Regions from separate parts of the Homo sapiens genome. Here region 2 is linked to region 1. Evidence: fine-mapped expression QTL. A gene starts in region 1. The other region holds a variant in brackets. All regions are shown on one strand. Distances are from middle to middle. Region 1 holds the start of GRIA4 (glutamate ionotropic receptor AMPA type subunit 4). Region 2 has its middle 83 kb from the start of GRIA4.

What was found. PIP is the estimated chance that this variant, and not a neighbour inherited with it, causes the effect. A credible set is the group of variants that fine-mapping cannot tell apart.
Region 2: its variant is the best candidate, but not a certain one, in a credible set for the expression of GRIA4 in pancreas (GTEx, PIP 0.58).

Annotation. Positions count from the first base shown.
Region 1 is chr11:105,607,175-105,612,566 of GRCh38, reverse strand. GRIA4 (glutamate ionotropic receptor AMPA type subunit 4) reads right to left here and starts at 2,494. Exons shown (of 17, transcript NM_000829.4): 1 at 2,139-2,494; 2 at 1,482-1,659; 3 at 133-291. The coding sequence starts at 1,569. RefSeq lists a silencer at 1,318-1,518.
Region 2 is chr11:105,524,323-105,529,714 of GRCh38, reverse strand. It overlaps a transcript of LOC105369468 not described here. Among named protein-coding and RNA genes, the nearest start is that of GRIA4, 83 kb to the left of the region's middle. The variant C/T (reference allele first, on the strand shown) is at 2,545.

The sequences.
Region 1 (5,392 bases):
ATTTGTCCTGAAACCAGGCAACTGTGGGAATCTTGAAATTCTTTCTAAAAAAATTAAATAACAAAGAGGAAGAGGACTCCATTGCTTGGTTTCAGTTCTCTTCTAATTTTTCATAGCTTATGTTTTACTTACAGGCGTTTGTTACAGCAAAACTGTTGGCTGTCTCAATGTTGTCCACATGAGGTACCAAATTAAAAGGAGCTTCCGACGCATTGGGGCTGGTGTTATGAAGAAAAATTGCTAATCGAAAAGCAGTGTATTCCTGATCTGTGTTTCGGATGAAGAGACCACCTATTAAAAACAGCAGGAAAAGCACATTCACTGTTTCCTCTTGTCAACATTATACCCACCCCAAGCACAGTCAAATCTACTGCCATTCACAAGCACATACAATTAAAGAGCTATACCTGCCACATCTAGGGAGACTGCCCTTTGTCCCTAAGGTGCATGCTTAGTATTTAGTCTTTAGAGCAGCTCAGCTTTTTCTTGTCCTAATGTGTCTTGCTCACAATGACCTCTGAGACCATTTAGTGAATGTTCCTTTCTCTCCCTTGCCCTCCCCCTGATTCCCAGCACACTGCTACATCAGCCACCTCAGGGCAGCTCTCTCTAAGATGCATGCAGATGAGCGGAAAAGAGATTTACATTAAAATACGGAAATGAAGGGATATAGTGCCACACAGGGAAGAGGGAAATCAGAAAGAAGAAATGAACTTTATTTTCCTCCAGCTCGTGGACTCAGCCTAATTAACTCCGTTTTATGCACAGTCCACGAGAAATGATGCAGTGTTGAGGCTGGGCTTAGCTGGAAGAAATTCAATAGCTGCGTCCCATTAAAAGACAGTAGAGGAGAATAGCAAGAAAAGCCAAGGATGGAGGGTGTCCCTGGAAACAGAGTCGAGGTAGAGAAATAAGGGCAAAAGCTTCAAGAAGAAAACAAAATAAAAGGGGAGAAGCTTCCAGGAAAGGGATCTAACTTTGGAATCTGCTAACTGGTAGCAAGAAACGGCAGGGCGTGCGGGTGGAAATGTCTTTTTCCTCAAACAGTGTCTTTCTGTAATAGCAAGAAAGCTGCGGCGTCCAGAATGGGAAGAAGTGGATTTTTTTTTTCTTTTTTAAACAAACTCGACATCACTTTATGCTTTAGAGAAAGGGATGGAAATAAATATCATATAAAATACAACCAAATTCCCCGAAGACTTTCCCCCAACTTATTTCAATCCTACTTAAGCGACTATAGGTAAAGGTGGAAATAGGGCTATGGGCTGAGAACGCATGGGTGGGCTGCCCTGGGTGTATTCCAACGGAACCTGCACTAAAGAGGAAGTCTTTTTGCAAAGGAGAGAAAGGAAGAGGAGGGAAACAGAGGGGAAGGGAACTGCTGAAGGTTTCCCTGAATTGCTTATCAGCAACTCATTTAACTCACTTTCGGATATCTGCTACAACCAGCCACATGCACACCCCATCGGAGCACACCTTACCTATTTGCACGCTGCTCGGAAAGGCTCCCATGGCGAGTCCCCAAAATCCAGAAAATAACAAGACAATCTGTCTGGAAATAATCCTCATCTTCTTTTCTCCTCTCCCTGGCGCGCGCTCTCTCTCTTTCTCTCGCACTCTTCCTAAAGGCTGTTCAGAGAAGCATTGAAGACGATGGCGCTAAAATTAAAATCAACCAAAAAAAAAAAAAAAAAAAGAAAAGAAAGAAAAGAAAGAAAAAAAAGGAAAGAGGTTTCGGTGGTTTAAGATTATGACTAGTTCTCCTTAGCAATCCATCGCGAGCCGCCAGATTTTTCCCGCAGTCTCCATAGCCCTGGGAGAGGTTTTCTGTCCGGCTGCAAATGTTGCACATGCAAAAGATGGTGGTGGAGCGTCTAGTGGCTGCTCGCAGGGATGAGACATGCGCTCTATCTTTGCCTCACTCGCACTCGCGCTCGCCCCTTGCTTTCTCACATACACACAAACACTGGCGCCGCGGCCGCCACACGCGCTCTCCAGCTCGCATCAGCCGACATCCCCCAGCAAGCCTGCACCAGCCCGGAGCATCGCTGCCCTCCTGGCGTCCCCTCCTCGAGCGCGCACTCCCTCCGCACGCCCCTCGCCCACCGCTCGGCTGGCTTCACCCCCTGGGTGCTCACCGGAGCGCCCCAGTCTCCCGGACGCTCCGGAGCCAGTCTGGTGTCAGGTTTTCCCTTCTGACCACTCGCTGACTCCCTCCTCTTTTCTTCCTCGGTTCGCAGAGGGACCGACTCTGGGGATGGGCACCCCCAGCGCCCCTCTCTTGGTTTTCCTGGCACCTCTGCTTCTCGGCTGCGCTAGGCAGAAAATCCGCCCACGGGCCAGGTCTGCAAGCCCCAATCGGGGGCTCCGGGGGGTTAGTACCTCCCCATGCCCCCAGGCCCCTGCCGCATCCTTGCAGGTTCGTGAGGAGGACGGGCTGCCTCCCTCTCCTACAGTCCTGGCTTCCCTCTCAGCCTAGCCCTCTTCTGCCACTGGGCTGCGCGCGGGGGACTCCGGTCCTCGCTGCAGCAAAGATTTCTCACCAGCAAACAGCCCGGGAATCTGGAGAGCCTGACAAGGGAATGGATGAGGTGAAAGGGTTCAGAGAGGGATGGGAGGAGAAAAGACAGGCAAAGGGCAGCCCCTGGCGGGTTTAAGAGGCCAGGACCAGGATGAAAGAATTGGAGGAGGTAAGGATGGGGAAGAGAGCCAGAGAAGTTGAAACATCCTGGGAAGGGGAGGAGGGGGTAAAAGGTTATTTTAAATAACTGACGAAGTTTAGGGTACTGAACGGGATGGGGAAAAGACTGAGAAATGAAAATTGAAAGAGGCCTCTAACATTCTCTTGGAAAGGCATGAAGCAGGGATAGGAATAAGAACTGCGTGAAGTGTAAAGTAGGAAAAGTGATTAAAGATTCGATTGCTTTCTATACAGTCACCCATTCCGGAGGACTCTTTCCTTCTGTGCTGTGGCCCATTGCAGGAGCAGGAGGGACACAGCGCAAAGGCTGATGAAGGACCAGAGGGGCAGTGCTTGGGGCAGTGGGCACAGGTGTCTGACAGGAAGATAGTGTTTCGTGCACATCTCCTCTTGTCTGGGACTCTGGAATGCTCACTCTGCTCCACGCCACCTCCAGGTAGACTTAAGCACTTCAGTGATGATGTCAATAGTTGTTTTGACTGGGTAGAAGTGAAAATGAATTATCCTAGAAAGTTTTGGGGTTACAGTCTCACTTGCTCTCCAGAGTCACCTTTAAGATTGTCCTTTCATCTGCCTGTCCTGGACTGAGCTTGAACCACACTCAGAAGCAGTCACTGTGGTAGCCGTGAGTGACCGGTTTCTGATTTCCTCTGTATGGTTTGAGATTTCCTGATCTAGTTAGTAAATACAATCTCCTGTTCCAATAAGCTGTGTGAGAGAATCATTAGAAGGAGAGGTTCTCCTTAAACGTTAGGGAACCTAGGGTGATGTCTGCCATTAAATTTTTAAAAAGAATATAGCAAATGCCTAGGTTTGCCTGATATAATATTTGAGACTACAATGCTTAAAGTGGAATTCTTGCAAGGGACTTACAGAAAGCCTGGTAACGGCTTTTTGAAATATACATTACCTTAACTCTTTCAAAATACTTTATTTGGTGTCACTGATTACCTGTATTTGTAGTTTGTAGATGACATTTTAAAATCCCTGCTAAAACTTGAGTGCTTTTCTATTTCCTAAGTTTTGAATTTTATTTTTAAAATTGCATCTTTAAAATAAGTGTCTGCTTTCCCGTTACATTTCACCACAGATTGTTATGAAAAAAAAAACCTAATTGTAACTGTATTTTACAAATCATACATTTGTCATTTTAGTTTGTGAAGTTTTAGTCTTGCAAGTCAAGTGAAATTTGAAGCATTTTTCCTTTTTTTATTTTTCTGTGTTAAAAAACAAGGCTGTGAATAATAGCATTCTGTTTTCTCTTGAAAAAGGATAATAGAGTATGACACATAAAATTCAAGTTAAATTAAAATTTCAAAATCCACCAAACTGTTAAACTCATCACTTGCTTGGGTAACTAGTGAAGCTCTTCCTGATCCAGAGGCAATTATTAACTTTAATTCTTCTCAAAATTGAAAGATTTCAGTTTTCATATGATGTAATAGCATCATTGATATAGATGCAGGACAAGTTTTTTTTCCCCACTTAACTGTCATGATAACACCTGGACTAATATAACCACAGATGACACAACTATATTTTTCCAAAATAGTAATCCAGTTGTTTTTAATTTCTATTTTCCCAAGTAGTTAAAACCTCTATTTTACTTTCTAAACCTAAACTCTCTTTATCTGTATTATATACACATATATTTATAAATGTATGTATCAAATATATTTTCTCTGTATGATACATAGAAATATCATATATACATATATTATATACGTATATACATGTATATAGATGTACATATATGTCAAATAGTTATATATTAAGCACCTATGATGTGTATTTATTCTCCAAGTGTTTGAGATATAAAGTTGAACAAAACAAAATCCCTGATATTCTTAGAAGACTCTTAATGTTTATGAATGCTCACTAATGTGCAAGGTATTGTGCTGAAGCCATACATATATTACCTGATCTACAGAAAATTTTAGGTATCCTTGCATTTGTTAGGTAACCCAACTAAAGATTTAGATTCTTTCTCAAGATTATATTCTTGGTAAGTGATGAAACCATAACTAAGGATGGGACTCAAGTTGTCTGATTTCAGAGACTGGGCTGTCTTTATTAAAACCTGCTGTGTTAATGAGTTTAAGGAGTGACGAGGGGTCTGGGAGCTGAAAAGTAAACTACAAGAATCCTAGCATTCAGAAAGGTAGTGTGTTCTACCTGAAAGACCTCAGGCTTTCAGACTAATAATTAGTAACTGGTTTCAGATTACAGGCCCTCAATTTCTTAGCTGTATTGACTTGGATATATTACCTAACATTTCTTTTCTGACAGGATATAAGTAAACTTTCAACACAGTTCTGGCACATAACTGGCAACTCTTGTCAATAATGAGTTGCCCCCCAAAATGTGATAAAGGCTCTTATAGAGTGAGGTGCAGAGTGCCATGTGAGCAAAATAGAGTGTCTAACTCTGACTTTGAGGGAATTCAGGGAGAACTCACAGAGAGAAAAATAAAATTGAACTGAGTTGCTATGTGTTTGTAGGGATTATCAAGTGGAGAAAAATTATGTCTTTCTAGACACTGCTAAAAGCTTGGTAAAACTAGACTTCAGGTTATATGAGGGGAAGTAGTGGAAGTGCGGCTGGAAAGCAAAGCAAGAGATGGCTCGGCACCATCTCACTCAGAAGCATTGTCTTCGTCTCATAGAGACAGAGAAACAATGAACGGTTATA
Region 2 (5,392 bases), 83 kb after region 1:
CCAGCTTTGTCAAAGATCATACGGATATTTGCCAATGTCCATGATGAACACAGATGCAAAAATCCTCAACAAAATACTAGCAAATTGAATTCAGCAGCACATCAAAAAGCTAATTCATCATGATCAAGTAGGCTTTATCTCAGGGAGGCTAGGTTGCTTCAACATATTAAAACCAATAAATGTGATTCATCACATAAGGGGAACTAAAAACAAAACCACATGATTATTTCAATGGATGCAGAAAAATCTTTTGATAAAGTTAAACACGTCTTCATATTAAAAACCCTCAACGCACTAGGCATTGAAGGAACACACTTTAAAATAGTAAGAGCCATCTATGAGGAACCCACAGCCAACATCATACTGAATGAGCAAAAGCATTAACCTTGAAAACTGGAATAATACAGGAATGCCCTCTCTCATCATTCTTGATCAACATAGTACTGGAAGTCCTAGCTAGAGTGATCAGGCAAGAGAAAGAAATAAAAGGCAGTCAAATAGGAAGACAGAAAGTCAAACTATCTATGTTTGTAGACCGTATGATTCTATATGTAGAAAACACCATATTCTCTGCTCAAAAGTTCCTTGATCTGATAAACAACTTCAGCAAAGTTACAGGATACAAAATCAATGAACAAAAATCCATAGCATTCCTATACACCAACAACATCCAAGCTGAGAGCCAAATCAGGAATGTGATCCCATTCATAATTGCCACAAAAATAATAAAATACCTAGAAATACAGATAATCAAGGAAGTGAAAGATTTCTACAATAAGAATTAAAAACAACACTGTTCAGAGAAACCAGAGATGATGCAAACAAATGGAAAAACATTCCATGCTCGTGGAGAGGAAGATTCAATATCATTAAAATGGCCATACTGCCCAAAGCAGTTTACAGAGTCAATGCTATTCCTATCAAACTACAATGACATTCTCTTTATAATTTGAAAAAAAACTATTCTAAAGTTTATATGAAACAAAAATAAGATAAAAGCTCAAATAACCAATGCAATCCTAAGCAAAAAGAACAAAGCTATAGGCATCACCTGGCTTCAGACTACACTACAAGACTACAGTAACCAAAACAGTATGGTACTAGTACAGAAACAGACACATAGACCAGTGGAGCAGAATAGAGAGCCCAGAAATAATGCCACATACCTTCAACCATCTGATCTTCGACAAAGTTTACAAAAACAAGCAATGGGGAAAGAACTCCCTGTTCAATAAATAGTGCTGGGATAACTGGCTAGTCATTTGCAGAAGATTGAAACTTGGCCCCTTCCTTACACAGTATACAAAAATCAACACAAGGTGGATTAAAGACTGAAATGTAAAATCTAAAACTATAAAAACCCTGAAGATAACCTAGGAAATACCATTTTGGACATATGACTGGTCAAAGATTTTATGATGAAGATGTCAAAAGCAATTACAACGAAAAATTGACAAATGGGTCCTAATTAAACTAAAGAGCTTCTGTTCAGCAAAATATCGACCAAGTAAACAGACAACCTACGTAATGGGAGAAAATACTTACAAACTATGTATCCTACAGAGGTCTAATGTTCAGCACCTTTAAGCAACTTAAACAAATTTATAAGCAAAAAACAACCAATCCCCTTACAAAGTGGGTAAAGGACATGAACAGACACTGTTCAAAAAAAGACATTTAGGTGGCTAACAATCATAGGAAAAAAAGGTCAACATCACTAATCATTAGAGAAATAAATGCAAATAAAATCCATGAGATACCATCTCACAGCAGTCGGAATGGCTATTATTAAAAAGTAAAAAAATAACAGATGCTGGTGAGGCTGCAGAGAAAAGAAAACATAACACTACTGGTGGGAATATAAATTAGTTCAGCCATTGTGGAAAGCAGTTTGGAGATTTCTGAAAGAACTTAAGATACAATTACCATTCAATGTAGCAATCTCATTACTGGATATATATCCAGTGGAATATAAGTCATTCTACCATAAAGACACTTGCACACATATGTTCATTGCAGCACTGTTCACAATAGTGAAGACATGGAATCTACCTAACTGCCCATCAGTGCTAGACTGCATAAAGAAACATATGCACCATTGAATACTACACAGCCATAAAAAATAATGAGATCACATCCTTTGCAGCAACATGGAGAGAATTGGAGGCCATTATCCTAAGTGAACTAACACAGGAACAGAAAACCAAATACTGCATGTTCTCACTTATAAGTGGAAGCTAATTATCTAGTACATGTGGACAAAAAGAAGAGAATATAGACACCAGGGCCCACAAGAGGGGGAAATTGGGAGGAAGGTGAGGATCCAAAAACTACCTATTGGGTAATATGCTTATTAATACCTATTGGGTAATATGCTTATTACTACCTGTTGGGTACTATGTTTATTGCCGGGGTTACAAAATAATCTGTACACCACATCCCCACAACATGCAATTTACCCATATAACAAATCTGCACATGTGCCCTGAAGCTCAAGATAAAAGTAAAAAAAAAAAAAGGGCTAATGTTTAACAGCAACAACAA[C/T]AAAAAAAAGGCTAGATGCTTTACATATGTAATAACTTTTTCATTTTTTAAAGAAATGGCACTAAATATGTAATGGTGTCTCATTGTGATTTTAACTTGCATTTTTCTGATAACTAAATATTGAACATATCTTCACATGCTTCATTTGAATATTCTCTTTTGAAGTACATTTTCAAGACATTTATTCAATTTTTTCCTGATTTACATTTTTTCCTGCTAGATTGCCCCATATAGACAGTCCCTATTTCCAGAAAATAGACCAAAAACTCCTATAAATTATATTAATGATTATATGTATAATTATATATTATATTAATATTTATATATAATTATATATTATATTAATAACTTATGGAGGTTTAGTCTATTTTATATTATATACAATTATATAGATTATATTAATATATGGGAGTTTTTGGTCTATTTTCTGGATATAGGGACTGTCTGTATGGGGTATCTAGCAGATGAGGACAGCAAATGGTATCACAGATATGTTCATTGTCCAGAGAAAGAGAATAAGCACCAGAATTGGTCTCAAAACTCTAGGGTGAGGGAAAAATATATGAAGGTTCTCCCAAGTCTTAAGGACACTTATGGAATTAAGGGACATTGCAGCTACAATCTGTGAATGTCTAAGCCCAGACGGGAGGACAAACATTTCCACAGATACCTGTAAGTGTAAATGACCTGAAGGTATAACACCCCCTTCTCCAACACCTCAGGCTGTGTAACACAATTTAACCACAGGCAGAGGAAAGTGAACACAGAAGCTGACCATTGAATTGTCCACACACGACAAAATAAGCCCTCCAAATGTGCTTATTCCTGTTCTTGTCCTCTCACTTGAATTTATGGATAAAAGATGTAGAGATTGTGGATGATCTCATTCATGAAAGATTTCATTTCCATAATTTTAATTATATTTAAAAATTGAAATTTTAACATTTATTAGAATTTATATCATTTTATTGCTTCTTTCCCAAATTGTAATCTGTATAATGGCTTAAATCAAATACCAGGGCTGGGACGGTTACAGTGCTAAGAAGCAAATATAGCTGCTAGTTTTGGGTGTCTTAGTCACCAACAGTCTTGTGACTACATATGAGTACATTGCACAGGATGGGAAAAAATAGGATTTCTCCAACTTGAAGCAAGACATGCCATAAGCATTTGACCGTTAAGTGTTGCATATCTGTTAGGGAAATGCTAGAAGAAAGAAAATGATACCTACATCATCCTTTTTAAACCAGGGCCCTCAGGACTGTGCATGTCTGACACAAAACCATACCCTGTGTCCATAGTATTGATTTTAGATTGTGGTAAATAAAGCATAGCAGTAAAGCCCAGAAAATTAATTCATGAAATGACTAAATGCTTCCCCTAAAACTGGTGACATTTAGAAGTATTTTTGATTGAAAAGTTTTAAATCTCCATAAAACCAATGCTAGATTAAAATGCAAGCCATGCTCTATGACTAACCTTAAGTGACACCCTTGTCTTTTTATTTCCTACAGGGTTGTAATGTTCTTCAGCTCTCACAGTGATTAATGAATGAAAGAATTACAAAACAGAATAAAATCAGTTAATTACTAATGCTCTAAATTGAAATTCATATTTAAATTGCAGTTCAATTTTTGTAATGAAGGAATACAAAGCATGCAATATTTTTTCATTGTATAAAACTTATAGAGATGCCATAGTACATTTAATGTAATTTTATAAAAAGAAATTTGAATCAAGAATTATTCAACCATATTTATGGAAGTAAAACAGTGCTATAGAGAAGCTGTTTCTATGTTTTCCGTTATTTTGATGATATAATTATCTTTTAGCTGTTTCAAAAAGATAATCAATGAAACTGAAATACTAACAAATTATCCAAAGTAAAAATTTCTGCATGTAATATCACCTTAGATACAGATAAACATAAGACGGAAAAGACTTTTTCCATCTTTTGAATATATTTATACTTTTTTTCTGAAACATTAAATTCTTCTTTAAAAAATTATAAAATGCTAAAGTATAGAAATGTATAGAGAGTAGTATCATAAAATATCCATGTATTCACAAGCTGATCTGTTACATTTACTTCAGATACATCATTTTTTAAAAATGAAACAATACAGGTACCCCGTGCATGGTCGCTCATACCTGTAATCCCAACACTTTAGGATGCCAAGGCAGGAGGATCACTTGAGCCCAGGAGTTTACGACCAGCCTGAACAATATGGAGAAGGTCTCTTCTTTATCTGTATCATTTCTGCTGGTTTCTATGCCAATTGCCTTATCTCCTTCAATCTTTATCTTTAAAACTGGATTGGAAATTATATTTGAAAAAGTGTTTGTAGTAACAGTTTGCATACTAGGATAAAGCTTTCCTTTTTCCAGAAAGGATTTTATTTCTCTTATATTGTCACTTTATGGTACTGGCAATCTAGAACCACCTTAAGCTAAAATCAGAGTGAGAATTTCTGGGACAGTCAGAAACTTATTTTCCCATAGCTGGGAAATATCTGGCTTATATTTAGCGTCCGCTGTCTCCAGCATGCTGTCCTTCATAAGAGAAGTGGTTTGTGCTCTGTCCCTGCCAGTATCTAGACTGCAGCCATTGTTCCCAAGTCCTGAGAGCATGTCAAAAGTTCTGCTTAGTCTGTGCCAAATACCCCCAGGGAAAGAATTTCTAAATGCAGGGTTTATTCTCAGAATTTCAGAACTTCTCCCTTGACCTAATTTACTATTTTACTAGTACTCTGCCTTTGAGATAATTTTTTAATGTGTTTTGTCCTGCTGTGTTAGCTTTCTTCAGTGGTACTCATTAATCCAAGTTATGCTAATCCATATTGCTGTA